7 linked regions of the Homo sapiens genome follow. The protein of the gene in region 1 purifies or fractionates together with the protein of each later gene. This does not show direct contact. Each region holds a gene or a part of one and is shown in the gene's direction. Other genes may lie near its edges.

Region 1 (3,500 bases):
CCTCCTCCTCAGATCTTAACCACCATCACTGAACCTGAAATCCTGTGTTTCCCAAAGTGTCCTTGTCACTGTCATGAGAGGATCAAGGAGAGGACCTTGTTTTCTTTCCCCACTCACACTCTACACCACCACAGGCCCAGCGAGAGAGACACACACTCAGGAGCTCTCACATGACAAATGAAGGAATGGAATGAAGAAATGAATGATCCAAAACCTCTTTAGAGATTGGATCTTGGATGCAGAATCCTAGGAGGTTCTAGCCACACCTGTCCCTTGTCCTTCAGAGGCTGACATCCATGTTTCATCCCCCCACTACCTCTTGCCCCTAAAGCCACCCCACCTCATGTAATTCTGAAGCTCTTAAGCCACCGGAGGGTTCTCGAGGGCTCCTTGGTCCTGGACTATGGAACTGGGGGCACCTGGTCCCTGGAGTTTCTGAAGACAGTGTCTCCCTCACTGCTCACTGCCATGGTGTATCTGCCTCTCTCTGCTTCTCTGTGTCCCTCATCTTCCTCCCACTTCATTCTGACTGGCAAGCCCTGTCCTGCACAGCTTCTTCCTCCACCTCTAGGCCTTCCCTAGACACTCCCTCTAACCACTCTGGCTGTTCAGTTCCCTTCCCACTAACACTGTGGCCTGGCCCACCTCCCAGGAAAGAGGAAAGGCACAGAAATCATCTGGAGTTGCCACTCCTGCCAGGCTTCCTCTCGAGCCAATGTCCCCAGGTCACTAAGAGAATGACCTTCCACTGTATTCCCATCCAGGGCTCTTTCCCTTTGTGAGGCTGACCTGTGGACAAGACCATGGGACAGGGATAGGCAGTTCCTCCATCCACTCTCATAATTGCCAGACAAGTTCCTCTGGCCTCCTGCACAAAAAAAAAAAAAAACAAATAAATAAATAAAATAAAATAATTGAAATGGCGGTTTGCAGTAAAGAAAGATTTTAATGACTCCAAGTCTGCCAAACAGGAGGACAGAGGTTTATTATTACTCAAATCAGCCTCCCCAGTGGATCAGGGCTTAGAGATTTTCAAGGATAGTTTCAGGGCCACAGGACTAAAAAATTAGTACTGCTGATTGTTTGGTGATGGAATCATGGGGGCAGGGGGACATGATCTGTTTGTGCTTGAATCTGCCTCTAGGTAGGGACCACATGACTGGCTGAGCCATTAGTCATAGGTATGGATGAGGTCAGCCGGTTGCCAGAATGCAAAAGAATGAGAAACATCTCAAAAGACCAATCTCACGTTCTACAATAGTGATGTTATCTATAGGAGCAATTAGTTACAAATTTTGTAAACCCTGTCCCAATGACACTGGAGCAGTCAGGGATTATAGAAACTGTGCCTACATTTTAGCAAAATTCAGTTCCCTCCTATAATCTTAATCTCATGGTCTTTCACTAGTTTTACAAAGGCAGTCCCTGGACAAAGTAAGGGTGTTAGTTTTATGGAGGAACTATTATCATTCTTGCTTCAAGTTTAAACCATAAACTAAATTCCTCCCAAGGTTAACCTGGCCTATGCCCAGGAATGAGTGAGGACAGCCAGCCTGAGACTAGATGCCAGATGGAGTCAGCCATGCTAGTTTGCTGTCACTGTTGTAATCTCTGCACTGACTCACCAGGGTGTCAGAGGCTGGACAGGCCTGCTGTCCCCAAACCCCATGGGCTCATTTCACCTGTGACTCCAGCCTCAACCTGCTAAGGAGCTCACATTCTCCAGTCACTTCCTATAGACTTCTGGCTTCCTGTCAGGCATATAACAAGCTTGAAATTTGTCACTGGTTTCTAACGCTAAGTAAAAAGCTGAACAAACTCAAAAGTCAACAACTTGTTAAAATCCCTCAGAGATGGCTGGGCACTCCATCTCTGAGTGGACTCTTGACCCCATCCTCACTCATGACGCCATCCTCAACCTGCTATGGAGCTCACATTCTCCGGTCACTTTCTAGAGAGTTCTAGCTTCCTGACAGGCGTATAACAAGCTTGAAATTTGTCACTCGGTTCTAACACTAAGTAAAAAGCTGAACAAACTCAAAAGGCAACAACTCATTAAACTCCCTCAGAGACGGCTGCGCACAGTGGCTCACGCCTATAATCCCAGCACTTTGGGAGGCCGAGGCGGGCACAAGGTCAAGAGATAGAGACCATCCTGGCTAACATGGTGAAACCCCGTCTCTACTAAAAATGCAAAAAATTAGCCAGGCATGGTGGCGGGCCCCTGTAGTCCCAGCTACTTGGGAGGCCAAGGCAGGAGAATGGTGTGAACCCAGGAGGCAGAGCTTGCAGTGAGCTGAGATCATGCCACTGCACTGCAGCCGGGGTGACAGAGCGAGACTCTGTCTCAGAAAAAAAAAACCCTGTTAGAGAAATGAAGAATGCTTTTGATGCTTACTGGTAGACTGCACACAGCTGTGGAAAGAATACCTAGCTTGAGGATGTGTCAACAGAAACTTCCAAAACTGAAACAGGAAAGTTCAAAAAGAGTGGGGAAAAAAAGTGGAACAACATATTCAACTTCATATTTAATATTTTGTTTTGACAATAGCAATTTTTAAATTTTGTAGCTGTGGGACAACTACAAAGACTGTAATGTACACGTAATGGGAATACCGGTGGTTTTGGGGACTAGTTGGAGTTGACCAGGTGGGTGTTATCTGATGGTTTTACTGCCTGTGCCACCTATAACTGTTTCCTCATGATGATGTCATTTTCATAAGTTGGAGATCTTCGTGTGGGGAGACACAAGAGCCATTGCCATCTCACTTAGACTCTTCCTAATTCACACAAACTTAAACTCTAGTGGTGTTTCCTGAGCTTAAGAGAAAATGAAGAAAGCATTTCACATACCTGTTTTGAGGTCCTCCCCATTTTTCCTAACTCTGCACAGAATTTAGAAGCAGGGAGTTCTTTCTATATTTACTAACATAACACACATCACTTCTTTTAATTTGACATCCTTTCTCCCTTTATGTAATTGATGCACTGACCAGTTCGGTCCTTTCAATGGGACTCTCTCTACTTAAGGAGCTGCTAATTTCAAATCACCTTTGGCATCTTTCTTTGAGCATAACGTGATCCTGCTGGAATTCACGGCACACCTAAACCTTATTTTGGTCTCAAGAGAAATACTACTACCAGCAATTGATCTTAGATGTTTGGACCATCAGTAAAAATTTCCACTTATGAAAACATTTTAATGTTTCCTCCAAATTTTTTTTGTTACTAGAGTCAGAATATAACATGAGGTCTAAACTCCTGACAAATTTTTACGGAAAAATTACACTGTTACAAATTGAGCATCGGAAATCCAGAAATCCACAATCTGAAATGCTCAAAACTCAACACTTCTGACCACTGATGTGATGCTAAAAAGAAGTGCTCACTGGCGCATTGTGGATTTTAAATTTTTCAGATTTGGGATGCTAAACCAGTACATGTACTGCAAATATTCCAAAATAAAAAAATAATTAGACATCCAAAACACTTAGTTTCAA
Region 2 (3,500 bases), on another chromosome or scaffold:
TCCGCATCAGGCTTGGAGAAGCAAGAGATGACCAGCCTGGCTGACGGGAAGGAGCAAGAATATGAGTCCCACCTGTGGACTCTTCATTGCAAGGCTGTGACATTGAGAATTTGTTTTATGGGAGTGTGGAGTCATCGATTGCCTTGGAACGTGGAGTGACACGGGATGGTGAAATAAGTAAATGCTCATTTGCTTATTTACTTATTTGAGTAATTTACTTATTGATACTGCTTTGTCCAGATCATCATGCCCTGGAAACTGGGGCTTACATGGTTCTAGCTCCTCTTTCAGACCACTTGAAAATTGTCCCATGAGTCAGAGGAAGGAACAGCGCATTGTGACTAGAAGTTGGGGCAGGTTTCGCAGATGGGTCAGGTCAGGGAAATAGGCAGGCATGGAGGGGGCATGTCTGTAGCAGAAGCTGAGTAGCCATCTTTGGCAATGGGGGTCTTTAAGGAGCTCCGATCCATCTCAGCCTCTTTTCCCCCTGTTTTTGTCAGGTAGCTAATCCAGATGGCGACTTCCGACTCACAATCGTCAATTCCTCTGTGCTTGATCGTCCCAGGGCTCTGGTCCTCGTGCCCCAAGAGGGGTAAGTGTTGCCCCAAAAGGAAATCAGTCTTGCGTCCAATGCTACACTAATAGATTCTCATGGAAACACAGACTGCGGGACAAAAACTCTGTTTCTCATGATGGTGGTTGAAATGGTCTATTAACTGAGAAGTTTGAGACCACAGCTTAGTCATCGTGGTCAGGTAACTCCGTTCGCTTTTTGTTAGCCAGTGTCAGAGTCTCTTTAGGCATCCAGATGTCTTGCATCTGTGGGTTGTTTCTCTAGAAAAGTTGATGTTAAAAGAGAGCTTCTGTAGACATAGACAGGCCTGCTTGGATATTGTGAGAACTTTCTCTTGAGTTTCATGCATGGTACAAACATTTAATTCATTCCATCTTTCCCCTGCCTTCCCAGCATGTGTAGGTTTTCTTACGTACAATCAGTGTGCACTTGGGGAAGGCAAAGGTGCTTTTTATTAACTCATTAACTGAAGGAAACATAATTAAGAGGGAAATTCTGGATTTGACATTCTGGCTTTTCCTCTCTCGTAGCATTTATGATAGAGAATTGGCACAATTTTTTTCAAGGAAAATTCTAAGAGTAATGTATGTACTTGGTTGACAATATTTAGAGAGAACAGCACTTTATGAAAAAAATTTGCATTCTTCCTTTTCATTCTTAACCCTTTACCCTCACACTTCCTAGTGGTAATCATTGTTAATAATGTCTTGTGTATCTTTCATGATTGCTTTTACTTATGTACAAGTATTATCTTTAAAACACACACATATACACACACATGCACGCCAAATAGGATTGTAGTGTAGTTACTATTCTGTACCTTTTTAAACAAACTTAATATGTATTGAAAATAGTTCTGTGTGAGCATATATAGATTTTTAGGTTTCACAGTATTCTATTATATGTACCATAATGTGTCACTTCCTCTGCTGATTAACATTTAGTTTAATATACATACATATACATTTCTTTGTATATTATCTTTGCATAATTTGATTTTATCTATAGATAAATTCTAGTAAAGGAATTTCCAGGTGAAGGAATTTAAGTAGTTTCAGGTGTTGTCATTACATATTGTTATAATAATGCTGAAATAACCAGCCGGATCATTCGAAAGGAGTTTCTGACCTTTTCTGGAGTAGTATTTGAGCTCCCATTTCTCTAGTATTGATGAGGTATGTGTTCTGTCCCCATTTTCGCTAGGGTGATGTTCTGGACAGACTGGGGAGACCTGAAGCCTGGGATTTATCGGAGCAATATGGATGGTTCTGCTGCCTATCACCTGGTGTCTGAGGATGTGAAGTGGCCCAATGGCATCTCTGTGGACGACCAGTGGATTTACTGGACGGATGCCTACCTGGAGTGCATAGAGCGGATCACGTTCAGTGGCCAGCAGCGCTCTGTCATTCTGGACAACCTCCCGCACCCCTATGCCATTGCTGTCTTTAAGGTGAGTCCATTTGTTGCTGCCGGACAGTCTGCTAGAGCGGGTGAGGAGCATATGAGATCAGGAGCCTGCATCCCTGGGCTTTGCAGAGAAGCTGTTTAACTTCTTAAAGGTTGCCTTTTTTCCAAATTTGAGATAACTTATTTTCAGCCTATGGAGGGATGCCAGGCAGAGGCGCCAAGGGTCCAGGCTCCCCTGCTGTTCACATTTCAAAAGGTTAAAAGTGAAGGCTCTTCCCATGAACATTCCCAGTTTGCCCCTCAGTGTCAGTAGCCTCATTTCAGGGTGGTGTCTTCATTTTTTGTGCGCTTTGCTCACTTTATTCTCTGATGACTTCCGGTGAGCTCTGCACCACCTATAGTGCCTTGCAGTTCTTTTTCGACTCTGGAGAGCAACATGGCTCTTCCCAACTCTGGGAAACAGATTTCAAACTGAGGGGGTTGGGTTTGTGTCATAAACTTGAATGCTTATCAGATAGTTTCTTTTGGGCAGTTTCTTCTGTGGGGTTATATGGTGAGGTTTGGATAAAATTGCTGTCCTTTGCATTTAAGTAGAATCTTGATCAGGCTAGTCATTCAGCCAATAAATGTTAGTTGTCTCCTGCCTGGGGGAACTCTTACCCTTAGAGAGAACCAGAATAAAGAACGAAAGAGCTGGACTAATGGGCAAAGGTTTTCTTTTTAGAATGAAATCTACTGGGATGACTGGTCACAGCTCAGCATATTCCGAGCTTCCAAATACAGTGGGTCCCAGATGGAGATTCTGGCAAACCAGCTCACGGGGCTCATGGACATGAAGATTTTCTACAAGGGGAAGAACACTGGTAAGCCAGAGTCTCTTCTTTTGTCTCTGTAGAGTTGATCTCAAGAAAGGGGCTGCGTGTGGCCAATCTCTGCTCAGAGTAGGAGCTGGCAGCCTGCATCTTTGTTGTCACGACAACATGCACATTATTTAATTTCTTCCTAATGACATCTTAATTTCTTTTCTAATGATACACAAACAGCTGGAAGACAGCATGCTTTTGCCTGCCTAGAGTGTTGGTGCTTGGTGGGTAATTACACCCTCCTCCTGCCCTTGGCCCCTGACTGATTGGTGGCGCGGCTTCTGTTGCAGCTGGGAGAGTCCTAACATGTGCTTAATCCCTGTTTGGCATGCTTGCAGGAAGAGACTCTGTGCTGGGTGCTCAGATAGTTGTTGCTTCCTGACAGGGCCTCTTGCTTGTTCTCTGGTTGCCCAGATGACCTATTGCTCATTGACCGTACCTACCTCTGCTGGAATGGCACTGTGTAGTTAGGTGTTGTTTTAATTAACTTTTCCCACCATGAAACCCTAAACCCCATGAAGAAAGAGATGGTCTTTTTTATTCCCCGATAGTTTTACCAGTGTCTAGCACTTTGTAGGTGCTCAATTCATATTTGTTGAAAGAATAAGGGATGAAAAGGGAGGGGAAGAATTGCAGTGGGTGCAGACAGTAGCTGT
Region 3 (3,500 bases), on another chromosome or scaffold:
GATTTTTTTTAAACACAACAAAAACTGTGGATTGCTTATAAAAGTTTTCCCACAATAGGCTTATTTTTATTTCACTTGTTTATTCAGAATATCCTTTCAACTTGTTTTTCGGTTATCTCCTTGGTCAGTTCTAGAATTTACCAAGCTCTCAGTCAGTGTTCAATCTCCTGTGCTGAACATGAGATTTCTTAGGCCTGGATTCAGCTCCTTCTCAAAGAGAGTTAAATATCAGTGCACTTCACCCTTTGACCTTTGTCTTTTGCTGAAACATGTGCCACAAACCATATTTTTTTCCTTTTTAGGAAGCAATGACAGAAGCATATAAGAGTGGAAATCAAATAGTAATGACCACTTCAGATTCTGTGTCATTTAGATATTTTGTTCTAAGTAACAGAAAACCTAATTTAAACTGTCTTAAAAAGATCCTTTATTGATACCCGTAATAGGAAAAGCCCAAGGCTTGACCCTTTTATCTGTTCTGCCTCACTCTGTATACTTGCTATCTATGAAATATAAAAATGACAAAAGCAATTTTAGGTATCTCATTTATACACCATAGAAAAATAAAGTGAATGTATTTCTCTGGCATTCCAAGCAAAGAGTTTTATTGGACTGGTCACTTGCTCACCTTTAAATAAACCACAATAGCTAGGGAATGTGATATGTTACATGGCCTTAGATAATAAAGACTGACCCCTCCAAAGCATATGAGCAGTGAAGAGTAGTGGAGTTGGGTACCAGTGGAACAGGTAGGAATGGAGTCTAGGTAGACAGGGGACATCTGAGGAAATTAAAAACACATAGTTGATTTTCAGTCAAAATAATATATTAAATTCATGTTTGGGCACCTGGCAATAACTGATGTTAAAAAAAAAAAAGCGCCAAAGTATAGTCAGAATAGTAAATAGGATAACCATCTCTATAGAGTACAAGCACAAAGTAATGAGTGAGGCTGTAGCTGTTTTGGAATTGGCCAAAATGGAAATCATCCAATATCTGATCTCAGACGAAAAGGAATTAAATTACAATTTGATAACAGAAAGATAGCCGGAAAATCACTGAATACTTAGACATTAAATAACACATTTCTTTTTTTTTTTTTTTTTTTTTAAGACAGAGTCTCACTCTGTCACCCAGGCTGGAGTGCAGTGGCGCGATCTTGGCTCACTGCAACCTCCACCTCCCAGGTTCAAGCTATTCTCCTGCCTCAGCCTCCCGAGTACCTGGGACTACAGGTGCACACCACCACACCTGGCTAATTTTTGTATTTTTAGTAGAGACGGGGTTTCACCATGTTGGCCAGGCTGGTCTTGAACTCCTGACCTCAGGTGATCCGCCCACCTTGGCCTCCCAAAGTGCTGGGATTATAGGTGTGAGCCACAGCACCCAGCCCAAAATGTTTTCAAAAGACATATATGATGAAGACTGTTATCCAAAATACACAAAGAACTCTTAAAACTCAACAAAAAGAGAGGTGGGTATGGGTGCTGGCTGAGGTCACTCAGTGCTGACCATCCTCTTCTCAAAGCCATGTCTCTAAGACATCATGGTGAAGGTGAAGGCCAGAGTAAATAGATTTGGGCCATATTGGGCACCTGGTCACCAGGGCTGCTTTTAACTCTAGTAAAGTGGATATTGTCACCATCAATGACCCTTCATTGACCTCAACTACATGGTCTGCATGTTCCAGTATTTCTACCCATGGCAAATTCCACCACACCGTCAAGGCTGAGAATGGGAAGCTTGTCATCAATGGAAATCCCATCACCATCTTCCAGGAGCAAGATCCTACCAAAATCAAATGGGGTGATGCTGAAGCTGAGTATGCCGTGGAGTCCACTGGCATCTTCATGACCATAGAGAAGGCTGGGGCTCACTTAATGGGGGAGCCAAAAGGGTCATCATCTCTACCCCCTCTGCTGATGCCCCCATATTCATAATGGGCATGATCCCTGAGAAGTCTGAAAACAGCCTCAAGATCATCAGCAATGCCTTCTGTACCACCAACTGCTTAATCCCCCGGCCAAGCCCATCCATGACAACTTTGGCATTGTGGAAGGACTTGTGACCACAATCCATGCTGCCACTCCTGCCCAGAAGACTCGATGGCCTCTGTGGGAAACTGTGGCATATGTCTGTGGGGCTCTCCAGAACATCATCCCTGCATCTACTGGTGTTGCCAAGGCTGTGGGCAAGGCCATCCCCGAGCTGAACAGGAAGCTCACTAGCATGGCCTTCCGTGTCCTTCTGCAAACGTGTTGGTTGTGGACCTGACCTGCCATCTGGAGAAACCTGCCAAATATGATGACATCAAAAAGGTGGTGAAGCAGGCGTCAGAGGGCCCCTCAAGGGCATCTTGGGCTACACTGAACACCAGGTTGTTTCCTCTGACTTTAACAGTGACACTCACTCTTCCACTTTCGATGCTGGGGCTGCCATTGCCCTCAGTGACCACTTTGTCAAGCTCATTTCCTCGTACAACAGTGAATTTGGCTACAGCAACAGGGTGGTGGCCCATATGGCCTCCAAGGAGTAAGACTGCTCGACAACCAGCCCCAGTGAGAGCACAAGAGGAAGAAAGAGACCTTCAGCTTCTGGGCAGTCCCTGCCATGCTCAGTCCCCCACCACACTGGGAATCTCCCCTCTTCACAGTTTCCATGCAGACCCCACAAAGAGCTCTATCTTGTCGTGTACCATCAATAAAGTCCTCTGTACTCAAAAAAAAAAAAAAGATAGAAAATGAACAACCTGATTTTAAAAATGAGCCAAAGATCTTAATGGACACCTCATCACAGAGGATATACAGATGGCAAATAAACATATGAAAAAGATGCTCCACGTCATATGTCATCAGGGAAATGCAAATTAAAACAATGAGATCCCACTACACACTTACTAAAATGGCTAACTAAAATCTAGAACGCTGACAACACCAAATGCTGGTGAGAATGTGGATTAACAGGAACTCTTATTCATTGCTAGTGGGAATGCCAAATGGTACAGCTACTTTGGGAGACAATTTGGTGGTTTCTTAAAAAAACTAAACATACTCTTACCATCCAGCAATCATGCTCCTTGGTATTTACCCAAAGGAGTGAAAAACTGTCCACACAAAAACCTGCATGTGGGTGTTCATGTCAGCCTTATTCATAATTGCCAGAACATGGAAGCAACCAAGATGTCCTTCAGTAGGTGAACAGATAAACTGTAATACATACAGAGAATGACATATTATGCAGTCCTAAAGAGAAACTATGAAGCCATGAGAAGATACAGAAAACACGTATTATGAGGGAAAGAAGCCAATCTGAAACAGCTGCATACCGTATGATTTCAGTTATATGACATTCTGGAAAAGGCAAAATTATAGAGACAATAAAAATATCAGGGGTTGGGTAGAGAGAGGGATGAATAGGCAGAGCCCAGAAAATTTTTAGGGCAGTGAACCTAATCTGCCTGATGCTATAATGATGAATACATGTCATTGTAAATTTGTCTA
Region 4 (3,500 bases), on another chromosome or scaffold:
TTTTGCTTAAACATTACACGCAGAAGTTAGCAGTTCAAACACTGAACCAGTTTCAACATGAATGCCAGTTGACAGCCTTTGCTTCTACCCGCCATACGGCAGGTGTCATATGATATGACTCCAGCAGTGTGAACCGTGACCAGCAGCAGGAGGCTCAGATGTGCCTGAACAGAAAACCAAAGGAGGCACCGTGTTTTAACTTTCCAGCATGGCACGGGCACGGAGGACTTTTTCTTCATTTCCTTCTGGGCAGAGTTTGGTCCCCCAGGATTAAGAGAGAATAAGTTTACTAAAATCCAAACAAAGCAGGTTCAGTTGTTTGACTTCAGTTTTAGAAAAATAAACACAGGATTTTGCAAACCTAAAAATAAAGTTTTCTCTTTATTGTATTGTTGTTCTTGTGTTTTAAAACGTCAGTGGAGAAATTGTAATGCTCTTAGGAGTATTCTGGTTCATAAGTTTATTCATGACCTGGAAATGATGTAAAATCGATGGGAGGGAGCTTTATATTTACAGAGGGGTTAAAAATGTTGGAAATTATTAAATTCCTTCTTCCAGACATTGATATCCTTGTCTTAGTAGATTTCAAATATTTCTGTCTTTTTGGAGGCTTTCCGACCTGTTTATACTCTTCAGCCTTGTTAATCTTTGTTCCTTACCTCTCTAAAGAAGGAATTTGGGGGTGAGTTGAGCCCCCAAAAGTAGGTACCCCTACCTTTAGAAGTATAAGGGGCACTTAAAGCTATGCCAGTTGAAAACTTAGTTTATTTGTTGGGGGTGTTAATAATATTACCTAGATTTGCTAAACAGGGAATGAAAGTGAATCATATAAGTGTTTACTTGGCCATCCGTAATGGAATGGAGCAGCCTCAATGAACTTCTCATTCAAAGAATTGTAGTCATTGAAGTACTAATTTCTGTATTTGAATTAGGTGATTCCAGCAATGTTGTTATCTTTGCTGAATTTCTTCTGAGAAACCCTAGACTCCTGCCTCAGCAGGAGTTTGTTTGATTTTCTTAGGGTTTTTGCAGGATGCACCTTTCTTTATGTAGTTTTATACTAGATTTCTCAGCATTGCTTCACTTTTGTCCCGGGTGGTCATTTAGAATGACCTAAAAGTAACAAATTGCCATCTTAGTCAACACGAAGAATTTGAGTTCTAGAATCCTGGACATGGTTTGACAGAGGGTTCCTTTGAATGCTTTATTTCTCTCCTGTGAGGCATTGTTTATCCATTCAGGTGCGTTTTACTCAGGTCCAGGTAATAGCACATATGGCCAGGTCTTTAAGGAGCAACAGCCTCTTGTAAAATGAGATTGTAAATAGCCCTGGGCATTCCCACTTTGCTCTGTGCTCTCAGAGTTTCTGTGGATTTCTATGGTTTGGGGGTTAGAATTGGTTTTTATAGATATCCTAGAGGCAGTTTGAGGACAGTGGTACCTTCGCTGGCGCTAGGGTAAGGGAGCCGGAGCACTGAGTGTGTTCTGATCTCCCAGACCTTTATACCAGGCTGCCTTGCTGCTGCAGTGGGTTCTTTGATCTTGATTAGTTTGTTTGTTGTTGTTTTTAAAATACTAAATGATGTCTGAAATGCTTTGTCTCAAGACAGGGCTTTGATTTTCATTTCATTTCACTTTCTTTTTTAATAAATAGAAAAATGTATATAGAAATGTTCTTTTGTATTTTGTATTTTTTTTTTTTTGATAAAGGGTCTCACTCTGTCACCCAGGCTAGAGTGCAGTGGTGCAATCATACCTCACTGCAGCCTCGAACTCTTGGGCTCAAGTGATCTTCCCACATCAGCCTCCTGAGTAGCTGGGTCTATAGGTGCAAACCATCATGCCTGCCTAATTTTTTTTTTCTTTTTTTATTTTTAAGAAATGGGGGTCTCACTATGTTGCCCAAGCTGCTCTTGAACTCCTCCGCTCAGCGATGCTCCGGCCTTGGCTTCCCAATGTGTTGGGATTACAGGCGTGAGCCACTGTGCCTGGCCTCTTTATATATATATATATATATATATATATATATATATATTTTTTTTTTTTTTTGTAAGAGTCTTGCTCTGTTGCCTGGGCTAGATTGCAGTGGCGCCATCTCAGTTCACTGCAGCCTCTGCCTCCTAGGTCCAAGCAGTTCTCCTGCCTCAGCCTCCCGAGTAGCTAGTATTACAGGCCTGGCTAATTTTTGTATTTTTTGATAGAAACAGGGTTTCACCATGTTGGCCAGGCTGGTCACAAACTCCTGGTCTGAAGTAACCCGCCTGCCTCAGCCTCCCAAGTTGCTGGGATTACAGCGTGAGTCACTGTGCCCGGCCTCTTTTGTATTATTTTTATTGTGGTAAAATATACACAACAAAAATTGTACCATTTTAACCGTTCTTAAAGTGTGCAATTCAGTAGCATTAATTATATTTACAAGATAAATACTCTTTTAAATGTGCTGTCATGGGGCTGGGGGGAGAGATCTCAAGATCTCTCTTGAAACTGTGGTAAAGTGACTGCAATCCTTTATTTATGCATTTGATTTTTAACTAGTGATATTATGAATTCTTCCCTGACTTTTATGGTTTATTGTATAGTACATTTTGTGATGGTGTTTGAAAATAAGTTGCAGCAGTGCCGGCTCTGGAGTCTGACAGCCTGGCCTGTTTCATGTCCTGCAATGGCGGTCACTGACGCTGCGACCTTGAGCAAATGACTTAGATGTGTCTGCACTCAGTTTCCTCATTGGTAACATAGGGATGATAAAAATAGGGTTGTGAGGAATGAGAGAATGTAAAGCACTGAGAATCGTGCCTGGCACACAGCATGCTTTCAATTAGTCTTAGCCATAACTTCTATAGACTTCATTTGCTAATCAGATGCAAGTTATCAGGAGAGAACACAGTCCTATCTTTGGCAGGATTCTGGAGTGGCTTGAAGATTTCTGTGCTATGTTTCTAGCAGGGAGGAAGTGGGAAAGAGAGGTTGTTCCCTATTCCCACTCTTGTGCTGGGCTGCTGGAAGGGGCTTACAAGGGGAGAGGCCCCTGGGGATCTGGCTTCCCCTTGCACCTCCACTGCTGTGGGAGGAAACTGAAGAGACCTGTGGAGCTCCTGGCAATTTGGACAGCTCAGGGGTTTAGGTGCCAAATGGCCCTCTGACAAGTGATGAGAGCATCCTGCGGGAAGGTTGCTGAAGAGGAGCAGCCCATTATGAGAGGGCTCCGAGAACAACCTGCTAGGACTGCACTTTTCCTCCACCTCTGAGTTTGCCCGGAGGCTGCCATGCTGGCAGGAAATGCTGCTGACTAAAAGAAACGCTCCCTGTGTGTCCCAGCCAGTGCGAGGACAGAGGCCTTCATTTTCAGATAAAGTCATCACCATTGCTTCCCTGTCTCCTTCTTTCCCTCTTTGCTTTTCCCTCAGTTTATAAATATTCTCAAGCCTGTCTCTTATGTTTAAATGACAAAAGAGAACAAAACAAAACACTCTCCCTACTTCTTTCTCCTCTGGCTACTC
Region 5 (3,500 bases), on another chromosome or scaffold:
GGATATCAGACCTTTGTTGGGTCCATACTTTGCAAATACTTTCTCCTATTCTGTAGATTGTCTATTTACTCTCTTGATAGTTTCTTTTGCTATTCAGAAGCTCTTTAGTTTAATTAGATCCCACTTGTCAATTTTTGTTTCTGTTGCAGTTGATTTGAGGACTTAGTCATAGATTCACTGCCAAAGCCTGTGTCTGGAATGGTATTTGCTAGGTTTTCTTCCTTTTTTCTTCCTTTCTTTTTTTTTTTTTTTTTTTTTTTTTTGAGACAGAGTCTTGCTCTGTCACCAAGGCTGGAGTGCAGTGGCGCTATCTCGGCTCACTGCAACCTCTGCCTCCTGGGTTCAGGCGATTCTCCTGCCCCAGCCTCTCTAGTAGTTGGGATTACAGGCATATGCCCCACCATGCCCAGATAATTTTTTATATTTTTAGTAGAGATGAGGTTTCACTGTGTTAGCCAGGATGGTCTTGATCTCCTGACCTCATGATCCACCCGCTTTGGCCTCCCAAAGTGCTGGGATTACAGGCATGAGCCACTGTGCCCAGCCGATATTTGCTAGGTTTTCTTCTAGGATTTTTTTATAATGTTAGATCTTACATTTAAGCCTTTAATCTATTTTGAGTTAATTTTCATATATGGTGAAAGGTAGGAGTCCCATTTCATTCTTCTGCATACAGCTAGCCAGCTATTCCAACACCATTTATTGAAGAGGTAGTCCTTTCCCCATTGCTTGTTTTTGTTGACATTGTTAAAGATCAGGTGGTTGTAGGTGTGTGACTTTATTTCTGTGTTTTCTAACCTGTTCCGTTTTCTGTGTGTTTGTTTTTGTACCAGTACCATGCTTTTTTGGTTACTGTAGCCTTGTAGTAGAGTTTGAAGTTGGATAATTTGATGCCTTCAATTTTGTTCTTTTTGCTTAGAATTGCTTTGGCTATTGAGGCTCTTTTTTGGTTTTGTTTAGAATTTTTTTTTTTTCTATTTCTGTGAAAAATGATGTAGGTAGTTTGATAGCAATAACATTGAACCTGGATATTGTTTTGGGTAACGTTCTTTTTTTTCTCTTTGAAACAGAGTCTTGTTCTGTCACCCAGGCTGTGTTTTGGGCAGTATTCTTATTTTAATGATATGAAATGAGTTATTTTTAAACAAAGTACAAATTACTAAAACTGATTTTTTATTATACAGGAATTATGAATAAAACATTAGACACAAACATGTTGAAAAAGTTGTTAAAAAGTAACCTCTCCAAGAGTACTGAACTCTCCCCATGGTTTTGCAATTGAATGCTAATGAAAATGTAAAAAAATAAAAATACCGTGCTATTATAACTGTTCCGGCCGGGCGCGGTGGCTCACGCCTGTAATCCCAGCACTTTGGGAGGCCGAGACGGGCGGATCACGAGGTCAGGAGATCGAGACCATCCTGGCTAACACGGTGAAACCCCGTCTCTACTAAAAATACAAAAATTAGCCAGGCATGGTGGCGCGTGCCTGTAGTCCCAGCTACACAGGAGGCTGAGGCAGGAGAATGGCGTGAACCCGGGAGGCGGAGCTTGCAGTGAGTTGAGATCGCGCCACTGCACTCCAGCCTGGGCGACAGAGCGAAACTCCGTCTCAAACAAAAAAAAAATAAAAAAAAAAAAAATAACTGTTCCAAAGTACAGTATAGAGAAAGAAGAAAAAATTCTGTTATTTTTTATAAAACTGGAAAAAATAATACTGATATCAAAACTTGACACAGCATAATAAAAAAGAAAAGCTACAGATTAATTTCACTAATATTGATGTACTTATTGATATGAATAGCATATTAGTAAATAGAACCCAAAAGAATAATTCACAATGATCAAGTTGGGCTCAAATTTTACAGGTAAGTTTAGTATTAGAAAATGGATTAATATAATTGTCATGTTAAAAAGTTAAGAGAAAAAAGTTAGAGGATATTCTTCATAACTACTACAATAATTTAACATTTTATTTCAGATTAATAGCTCAATAAAGTTTACACAGATGGAAATTTACTAAACATGATACATTTATATCAGTATATTTGTGTTTGTCTTCTCTAACAGTCTGTCTAGCCATGTGTCTTCAAAATCAAAGTCATGCCAAAGAAGCATTGCTATTAAAAATAAGAACAAGACAAAGTTTCCAGGATAAATATTCTGGAGATAGTAGCCAAAGTAATAAGAAAAGGGAAAGAAATGAAAAACATAAAATTTGGAAGGTAAGAAGAAAGATATCATCTACAGAAAAAATTAAGGAAATCAATTTTACAAACTTTAAGACTTTGAAAAAATGTTAAACTATTCAAGGTAGGTTACAAAATTAATATAAAAATAAAATTGCTTTACTATAATTAATAAACAACTTGTTTAAAAGTGATTAAGAAAAATCCATTAACAGGAAATAAAACATATATGTATATAATATGTAGAAATAAACTCAAAATGTCAAATTTATATAACTCTTTAAAGTGCTCATGAAGAAATGAAGATGACTGGCTTGAATAAACAAAGAATATATTCTTTTTTGATGTAAAGATGGACTATTGTATAAAAAAGGTCGATCTACCTAAATTGGTCTACTAATTTAACATGATCCCAATTTTGAGGAGTTTTTGGTACCTAGTCAAAAATAATCAGAAAGAAAACTTAAAAGAAAATATTAAAACATATTATAAAGTTTTGATATTTACAATTACTTAATAGTCACACATAAATAGAAAATCGATAGATTCGAAAATAAAATATAGCATTGTTAACCTGTGATCAAAAGGTAAATTATTCTATAAGTGGTATTGGACTAATTGGATAGACATGGAGAATAAAAGTTAAAACTTTTTCATTTACATCAAAATAAGTTTTAGATGATCAAAGATTTCAATTTAAAAATTGAAAATGTAAGAATACTAAAAGAAAATATAGGAAAATGCTATAATTCCAAAGGAGAAAGAGACTTATATGCATGTCATAAACCATAGGAGATAAAAAAGAAAAAAAATAAATATTGGGCAACGTGTTTTATCATATATGATGGAAAAAGAGCCACATATTAAATACAAAAATTTCTCATAAAAAGATGAACACTCCTAGCTGAGTGTGGTGGCTCACGCTTGTAATCCCAGCACTTTGGGAGGCCGAGGAAGTCAGATCACTTGAGGTCAGGAGTTCGAGACCAGCCTGGCCAACATGGCGAAACCCTGTCTCTACTAAAAATACAAAAAACAGTTGGGTATGGTGGTGCATGCCTGTAATCCCAGCTATTTGGGAGGCTGAGGCATGAGAATTGCTTGAACCTGGGAGGTGGAAATTGCAGCGAGCCAAGATTGCACCACTGCACTCCAGCCTGGGTGACAGAGTAAGTGAGATTCCATCACAAAAAACAAACAAACAAACAAAAAACAGATGAACAATCCTATAGAAAAATGACCAAGGATATGCTAGAGAGTTCACCGAACAAAAGACAGCTTAAGTAAATGAAAGATGTGCAGTCATACTTT
Region 6 (4,238 bases), on another chromosome or scaffold:
GTTGCTCACCGGATGGTGGTTGTCCACATCCTCGGGGCTTCAGGAGTGAGGCCTTGCCCTGTACCTGCCCACCTGCACCTCGACAGCTCAACAGGCACAAGGCAGCGTCCACTGGCTCTCCCCTTCCGAGCCAGGGCTCTCACGCCTTCTCAGGGAGTCCCTTCCCCATCTTCCTTGGAAGCTTCCACCTTCTGTCCTCCAGGCGGTGGGGAACTGCCACCCTCCTGGGCAAGGATATGGAGCTGGTGTTTGGCCTGGATGCCCTTGCCTGGTTGGAGGTAATAAAGCCTAGGGCTGGCTTTCGACGATGATAGAAACTTGGTGGCAGGGGAGGTACTGAGGACCAGGAGACAGAACAGCTGCTTTCAAGCTGCTGAGTACCCAGCCTGCTGCCACTCCTGTACACCGCATGAGGGAATGCTTTTTTTTTTTTTTCTGACAGAGTCTTGTTTTGTCGCCCAGGCTGGAGTGCAGTGGCATGATCTCGGCTCACTACAACCTCCGCCTCTCAGGTTCAAGCGATTCTCCTGCCGCAGTCTCCCGAGTAGCTGAGACTACATGTGTGTGCCACCACACCTGACTAATATTTGTATTTTTAGTAAGAGATGGGGTTTCGCCATGTTGGCCAGGCTAGTCTTGAACTCCTGACTTCTGGTGATCTGCCCACCTTGGCCTCTCAAAGTGCTGGGATTACAGGAGTGAGCCACCACACCCGGCTCTAAGGGAATACAATTGGGAGTCCGTTTTGCTCTTGGAGAATTCAGGGTCTGGTAAAGGGACCCTATGGCAAACATTAAGACCCCAGACACCATGAGCTGAGATGGGACGACAGAGCAGGGGCTGGGAAGGGTGCTGGGGCACAGCCCAGCCCTGGCATGGATAGGGCAGGGGTCCAAGAGACCTGCAGGACACTGCAGAGTAACTTGCATACAGGGCGAGAGAGGGCATGTGGGGGAGGGCGGGCAGACAGTGCCTGATGCAGGCCATCCCGGGACCTGGGACCTGCGAGGCCCAGTTGTGGAGCCTCCTGCTGTGGCGGGGCACGGGGCTTCTGGGGACCAAAGTCTGGAAAAGGGGCCGGGAAGATGGACAGGGAAAGCCCTTGGAGGTGGTCTGGTTACCTGGGTGAGCTAGGAGCCACAGTCATCATACCACGGTCACTAGGGCCAGCATGGTCACCTAGAAGCCTGCAAACAGTGCCAGCCTCCAGGCCCTGTGCCCCGAGGTGGCCTTTAATCTTGCACTCACTCTCTAGGAAATGATGGGGCAGTATTCTGTGTTGAGGGAGGAAAAACACTCCCTTCCAAAAGCATGACAGGCAGAAAGCAGAGAAGGGCCAGGACTGGCTGAGGGCGGGGAGCTGGGCCTCTGGGGTGGACACACCCTTGGTCACATTGTGAGGGTAGCTTGGTTGGCCAGTCCCACCACTGCAGTGACCACAGTTGTGTTGGGCTCACACCAGTGAACCGAAGCTCTGGATTCTGAGAGTCTGAGGATTCCGTGAAGATCTCAGACTTGGGCTCAGAGCAAGGATGCGTGAAATTGTCCATATTCAGATTGGCCAGTGTGGCAACCAGATCGGAGCCAAGGTAAGTAATGTCTGGTTACTAATCCTAGCTTTACCACAGTCCATAGAGGCGGACAACCAAAAAAATACCCTAAGTTAGCAGGGAAGACAATAAGTCTAGCAGATTTAATGTACTTGCTAAATATCAGACAATGCCTTTGGGCTTTAATTCTTAAAAAAAAATTTCACATGGGAAAAGAAGGAAACAATCTTTAACTAAAGAGCTACAACACACATTAAGTGCTTAGAGTGTTAATTTAATTAATGTTAATTTTATCCATAGATACATATGTACAATACATGCCGACCATTATATTACATAATACGTTTATCATCTTTTTCTTTGCCCACTCTGTTGCCCAGGCTGGAGTAGAGTGGCAGAATCATGGCTCACTATAGCCTCAACCTCCTGGGCTCAAGCTATTCTCCTGCCTCAGCCTCCTGAGTAGCTGGGATTACAGGCATGCACCACTATGCCTGGCTAATTTTTAAATTTTTTTTTGAGAGACAGGGATCTCACTTTGTTGCTCAGGCTGGTCTTGAACTCATGGGCTCAAGTGATCCTTCTGCCTCAGGCTTCCAAAGTGGTGAGATGACAGGTGTAGGCCACCGTGCCTGGCACTTTTATCATCTTTTATTTTTTTGAGATGGAGTGTCACTCTTGTTGCCCACGCTGGAGTGCAATGGCGCAATCTTGGCTCACTGCAACCTCCACCTCCTGGGTTCAAGTGATTCTCCTGCCTCAGCCTCCCCAGTAGCTGGGATTACAGGCATGCGCCACCACGTCTGGCTAATTTTGTATTTTTAGTAGAGATGGGGTTTCACCATGTTGGTCAGGCTGGTCTCGAACTCCTGACCTCAGGTGATGTGCCCGCCTGGGCCTCCCGAAGTGCTGGGATTATAGGCGTGAGCCACTGTACCTGGCCCACTTTTATCTTAACAATGAACTTTTCATATCTAAAAACAGTAATTTGTCTCAAAACAGCTTTTTGAAGTTTTTTGAGAAACTTTCTGTACCCTGTCACTATGGTGTCTTTCCCCTCCCCTCTCATGTTTATTGTAACGCTTAAAAAAAATCAATTACTGTTTTATTAGTATGCAATTGAAAATTTAAGAAATTTAATTGAAAATAAAAGTTTTTTGTGTACAGTAACATAATTAATTAAAATACACTGTCTGGAATATAAATGAGTTTTTCTTTCCCTTGCCCCCCTGCTTAAAAATTTCCCCCAAGTACGTAACTTAATTGGCCAACCCCAAGAACACAGATGCCCGAACCCACAATCTCCAATCTTGATTTTAAGATGACCAATTGCACCGTGCAAAATTTATCGTGTTCTCTTTGCTGCTGTGAAATTACTTTTACTAATATGAGATGCATTAAAAGTGAGGTTTTGAAACACCTACATTCATCATCCATCAATGACACTTGGGTTGTTTCTGCCTTTTGGCTACTGTGAGTAATGCTGCCAGGAAACAACTAAGGCTTTTAAATGCAGGCGTTTTAAACCGGGGGCAAGGAACATTACTGCTTGAAAAGAAGTCACCATTCCTCCATGCCTCAGGGGTAAGACATTCATAACTCACACACAGAGAAGTGGGAGGCAGGAGCCCTGCTGCTCTGAAGCTGGAAGATAATACGGAAAGGGGCCCTCAAGAGAAAGTGTTAGGTTTAGATAGGGTTTTAGCTCTCACTCTGGAATCGTATGGTCTAGCGTTGAGAGTCCTGGCTGACTCATCATTTAGAGATATAAGAACTTTAAGACACATTTAATTTGGGGTATCTTAGAACTTGAATTTATTTATTCTTCCACTCCCTGAACAGTGCTGGCAGTTTACCATGAACTGCCTTGTTATTAAGACCATGGCCAGAGCAGCACTGTCATTTAGAAGATATGGCTGGGGTTTTTAACATACCCTTGGGGATTTTAATATATGTGAATACATTTTCATTGCATTTTAATATGTGCCTTTCAGGGTGATCAAAAGGAGTCTTCCCAGTAACTGTTTCCATATTAAGAGCTTGGCACATATCTATATTAATAAGTACTGTGTATGTGACTGGAAGTGCAGTATGTTTCAAATAGTTACCAGAGGACAACTATGTGTAATTGTGAGTTGTATGTATACCTGACAATCAAAAATGCACATTACTGGCCGGGCACAGTGGCTCACGCCTGTGATCCTAGCACTTTGGGAGGCCGAGGCAGGTGCATCACCTGAGGTCAGGAGTTTGAGACCAGCCTGGCTAACATGGCAAAACCCTGTCTCTACTAAAAATGCAAAAATTAGCTGGGCATGGTGGTGGACGCCTGTAATCCCAGCTACTTGAGAGGCTGAGGCAGGAGAATTGCTTGAACCCAGGAGGTGGAAGTTGCAGTGAGCCAAGATTGTGCTACGGCACTCCAGCCTAGGTGACAAGAGTGAAACTCTGTCTCAAAATAAATAAATAAACAAACAAACAAACAAACATAAAAAAATAAAAAAAAGAAAGAAAGGCCGGGTGCTGTGGCTCATGCCTGTAATTCCAGTACTTTGGAAGGCCAAGGAGGGTGGATCACAAGGTCAAGAGATAGAGACCATCCTGGCCAACATGGTGAAACCCCGTGTCTACTAAAAATATAAAAATTAGTTGGGCGTGGTGGTGCGTGCCTGTAGTCCCAGCTACTCA
Region 7 (3,500 bases), on another chromosome or scaffold:
GGCAGAGCTGGGACAGGGATCTAGGTGGTCTGGCCCCAGGGACCTTATACTTTACCACCATACTGGGCCAGCTCTACTCTGTGAGCCCATGTGACAGGCTTCACACACCTTCCTTCTTTGCATCCTGTGGCCACACAGGACGTGGCAGACTGGGACTTCCAACTTAGGTCTGTGTGACACCAAAGGTTGTGCTCTAAAGGACAAGCATGTAAACTAATAGTAGGAATTTGTTTAAAATTTTCTTAAAAAGCAGATTTTAAGGTTAGAGGATCAGGAGTATAGAAATTGGGTCTAATCTCCCCACTAAGTGAAGACTGTTATGATTGCCTGGAATCATTGTCAGTATCTGTGGAGCCATCAGTGAAAGATTCCAGGGTAGCCCTGTAGTTTCATTGAGTATGCTGGAGTTCTTTACCAGTGTGTGTGTGGTTTGGGAATGGTATGTGGTAGAAGAGGAATCAAGGAAATCAGCACAGCGCTACTGTTTCCTTCTCGGGACAGTTGAGTGAGCTGTCGAGACGAGGGCAGCTCCTGCCATTGACACCAGGACTCTCCAAAGCTCATTGACACTGAATCCTTCGGTTTTTGCCAATTCCACGCACACACCATGGAAGTGGCTCCAGCAGAGGCTGGTATGGCAGGCTATGCTCTTTCTTGGAACCCGGTGTCATTGCTGAATCAGGGGCCACTATGCTCAGAGTAAGGAACCCGGGGTTGCCCTTGTGTTAAACAAGAGCTAATTGAATAACAGCCTAGGACCCCCTCCATGCTGAAACCCCTTGGTGCGGCATGTTATGCAGAGGGCCTCACAGTGACTAGCATTGCCCTTCTGCCATTCTCGTCACATGACAGCTCACGTCTTTGTTACTGAGTCATGTCACTTTCTTCTATGAGAGGTTTTGACTCGCAGGTCTTCTTGGTCATGGGAGCAGACACATAAGGACTGCTTATTTATCTCTAAAATAACTGCTTAAATACTTGGTCATTTTGAATTATAAACAGCATGGTGCATGATTGAGTGCAAGTTCAAAGTGGTATAAACAACTGTTAATAGATACATGAGGCTCCTTCCTCAACAGTGGTTTCTAAGAATTGAAGTTTAGAGCAAATGACAGATTCATCCTATAGTACGAGGAGGCTCAGCTACCTTTAGAGGATGGCTTGATGCCTTGTTACTCTGCTGGTGGTGGCCATGAATGCAAAACGTCCTTTAATAGCACTGGGATAAGCAGGGCTTCCCTGGTGCTGCTGAAAATGTTTGTCTGTGTCTGTTTTTTGTTGCTCATAATCCTACCACCCAGAGAAACCACTGTGTGTGTGTGTGTGTGTGTGTATGTGTGTGTGAGCGTGCTTGCGCTTGTATAGAAGTTGTGTATAAATTGGGTCAAATGAATATTCGGGGGTGTGTGGGGGCTTAAGGATATATATCCTGGGACTGCATGTGAATGTGCATGTGTGGGTATGGAGTGTGTAGGAGTTGTGTTTTGGAGGTGAGGATATATATGTGTGCTTGACAGTGTGATGGAGTTTTGTGTGTATTTGAGATATAATTCATATACCATAAAACTCACCATTTTAAAGTATACAATTCTGTGGTTTTTAGTATAGTCACAGGTTGTGCAACCATCACCACTAATTCCGGAACATTTCCATCACCCCAAAAAGGAGCCTTGTGTTAGCAGTCACTCCTCATTCTTCCCCAGCTTTGTCCCCCATCCCCTGGCAACCACCGATCTACTTTTCGTCTCTATGGGTTTGCCTATTTGGACATTCCGTATAAATGGAATTAGAACTGTGGCCTTTTGTGTCTGGCTTCCATGACTTAGCATGTTTTTAAGATTCATCTGTACTGTGGCATGTATTAGTACTATTTTTAGGGATGAGTCATATGCCTTTGTAAGGCTAGACTTTGTATTTATCCATTCATCAGTTGATGGACATTTAGGTGGTTTTTGGTTTTAGCTATTTTGATAGTGCAGCTGTGAACATTTGTGTACAAGTTTTTGTGTAAACTTTATGTTTTCAGAGGTAACTACTTTTAAAGTTTTGGTTATATCCTCTCAAGTATTTTCTTTGTGAATGTATATATGTTTATTACTTTTGCAAATGTGGATCATAGTATATACACTGTTGTGTAGCATGCTTCCCCCTACTTGGCCATATATCAGGGGAGGTTTCTTTCCAGTTGGTTGGTTATTTTAGCCCATCCTCCCTGGGTAGAGCATCTTCAACACTCCAGGTCTTCACTCTGCAGGTCCCTATCACTGTTCAGTCCATCGTCATTCAGTCTCTAAATAAAACGCTCACCCGACGGGAGGACACTGATGTGCTGCAGCCGACTCTCGTCAACGCTGGACACTTTAGCCTTTGCGTGAATGTTGTTCTTGAGGTAGGTGCCGAGTTTGGCTTTGAGAGCTTGTCTGTGGCAGACTTAAGCCTCTTGTTGCGCCGGGGTAACTGGACGCCCTCCGAGGACGCTCTGTCCCAGCCCATGGTGTGGCTTTTCTTGGCTCAGCTGCCTGCTTGTCTTTCTGCTGTCTCATCAAAGGACACCTCTTGTCTCCACAAACTTAGTGACTTGCCGGAATACATCAAAATATTTTTGTTGTTGCTGTTTTTGTTTTAACATGTTTCCTCTGCAGAGATAGGCTTATTGCATTCTGCTTGGACCAGCTTATGTGGAACTTCTGTAATTGGGCAGAGTGGCTCAGATGACCCTGTCTGCTAGGGGTGGTGCTGAGGGAACACCTCTCATAATCCAACTGGACAGCAGAGCAAGGCTTCAACACATGGAGAAACAGGGAAAGATTTGCTATCTATGGGTGTTTTCAGTTATTCATACAGCTTCTGAAATGTAATGGAACAGGTATATTTGGAGTATCATTTTGTTTTTAGGTAAAGTACAGCCTCACATACACAGATGCAGGTGAAGTCACCAAAGCTGATCTCTCATTCGTTCTGGGGACAGTTAGCAGCGTAGTGGTCCCACTGCAGCAAAAGTTTGAAATTCATTTTCTTCAGGTAAGGTTGATCAATTTGGCATAAGTATTTAATTGCCAAGTTAAAAAGAAATAATGACTTCTCAGTGGATAAAACTGAATTTCTAAGTATTACATCCAAGCCTTTGTAGTGAACAGAGGGCTTTGTGTAGCCTGTGCATTTGTAATGAAACCAAGCATTCTCCTTGTATCTTTTTTCCTTTTGGGAAAAGATTCCCTTCCACATTAGCTTGTTCTTTTACAGTATGATGTACTCCTACACCTGGCAGATGTATTTATAGTTCTGAGTAGGGAGGGAGAAATTCTTTTATTGGTTGGTAATTCCATATTTTATTATGAAAGAAGAATTTTTCTTCCTGCCATTTCCTTATTAAAATGAGAATTATTTGGGGGCATTTCTGCATTGTCTTTCAGGAAAATACCCAGCCAGTCCCTCTCAGTGGAAACCCTGGTTATGTCGTGGGGCTCCCATTAGCTGCTGGATTCCAGCCTCATAAGGGA

The links.
Region 2: the proteins of PSG1 (region 1) and SORL1 purify together in Homo sapiens (affinity purification with mass spectrometry; 2 studies listed by BioGRID and IntAct, with this or other methods). This does not show direct contact.
Region 3: the proteins of PSG1 (region 1) and ANKRD46 purify together in Homo sapiens (affinity purification with mass spectrometry; 3 studies listed by BioGRID and IntAct, with this or other methods). This does not show direct contact.
Region 4: the proteins of PSG1 (region 1) and STK39 purify together in Homo sapiens (affinity purification with mass spectrometry, with the first as the bait; one large-scale study listed by BioGRID). This does not show direct contact.
Region 5: the proteins of PSG1 (region 1) and COL14A1 purify together in Homo sapiens (affinity purification with mass spectrometry; 2 studies listed by BioGRID and IntAct, with this or other methods). This does not show direct contact.
Region 6: the proteins of PSG1 (region 1) and TUBB1 purify together in Homo sapiens (affinity purification with mass spectrometry; 2 studies listed by BioGRID and IntAct, with this or other methods). This does not show direct contact.
Region 7: the proteins of PSG1 (region 1) and TCTN1 purify together in Homo sapiens (affinity purification with mass spectrometry; one large-scale study listed by BioGRID and IntAct). This does not show direct contact.

The regions. Positions count from the first base shown.
Region 1 is NC_000019.10:42,873,214-42,876,713, reverse strand, and holds part of PSG1 (pregnancy-specific beta-1-glycoprotein 1 isoform 2 precursor), read left to right. Parts: intron 1-3,500.
Region 2 is NC_000011.10:121,556,814-121,560,313, forward strand, and holds part of SORL1 (sortilin-related receptor preproprotein), read left to right. Parts: intron 1-500; coding exon 501-592; intron 593-1,777; coding exon 1,778-2,024; intron 2,025-2,705; coding exon 2,706-2,844; intron 2,845-3,500. UniProt on the Homo sapiens protein: Sorting receptor that directs several proteins to their correct location within the cell. Along with AP-1 complex, involved Golgi apparatus - endosome sorting.
Region 3 is NC_000008.11:100,549,760-100,553,259, reverse strand, and holds part of ANKRD46 (ankyrin repeat domain-containing protein 46), read left to right. Parts: intron 1-1,526; exon of another isoform or gene 1,527-2,720; intron 2,721-3,500.
Region 4 is NC_000002.12:168,241,096-168,244,595, reverse strand, and holds part of STK39 (STE20/SPS1-related proline-alanine-rich protein kinase), read left to right. Parts: intron 1-3,500. UniProt on the Homo sapiens protein: Effector serine/threonine-protein kinase component of the WNK-SPAK/OSR1 kinase cascade, which is involved in various processes, such as ion transport, response to hypertonic stress and blood pressure.
Region 5 is NC_000008.11:120,131,602-120,135,101, forward strand, and holds part of COL14A1 (collagen alpha-1(XIV) chain isoform 1 precursor), read left to right. Parts: intron 1-3,500. UniProt on the Homo sapiens protein: Plays an adhesive role by integrating collagen bundles. It is probably associated with the surface of interstitial collagen fibrils via COL1.
Region 6 is NC_000020.11:59,017,991-59,022,228, forward strand, and holds the start of TUBB1 (tubulin beta-1 chain), read left to right. Parts: upstream 1-1,438; 5' UTR 1,439-1,532; coding exon 1,533-1,589; intron 1,590-4,238. UniProt on the Homo sapiens protein: Tubulin is the major constituent of microtubules, a cylinder consisting of laterally associated linear protofilaments composed of alpha- and beta-tubulin heterodimers.
Region 7 is NC_000012.12:110,638,129-110,641,628, forward strand, and holds part of TCTN1 (tectonic-1 isoform 1 precursor), read left to right. Parts: intron 1-2,254; coding exon 2,255-2,389; intron 2,390-2,895; coding exon 2,896-3,021; intron 3,022-3,413; coding exon 3,414-3,499; intron 3,500-3,500. UniProt on the Homo sapiens protein: Component of the tectonic-like complex, a complex localized at the transition zone of primary cilia and acting as a barrier that prevents diffusion of transmembrane proteins between the cilia and plasma membranes.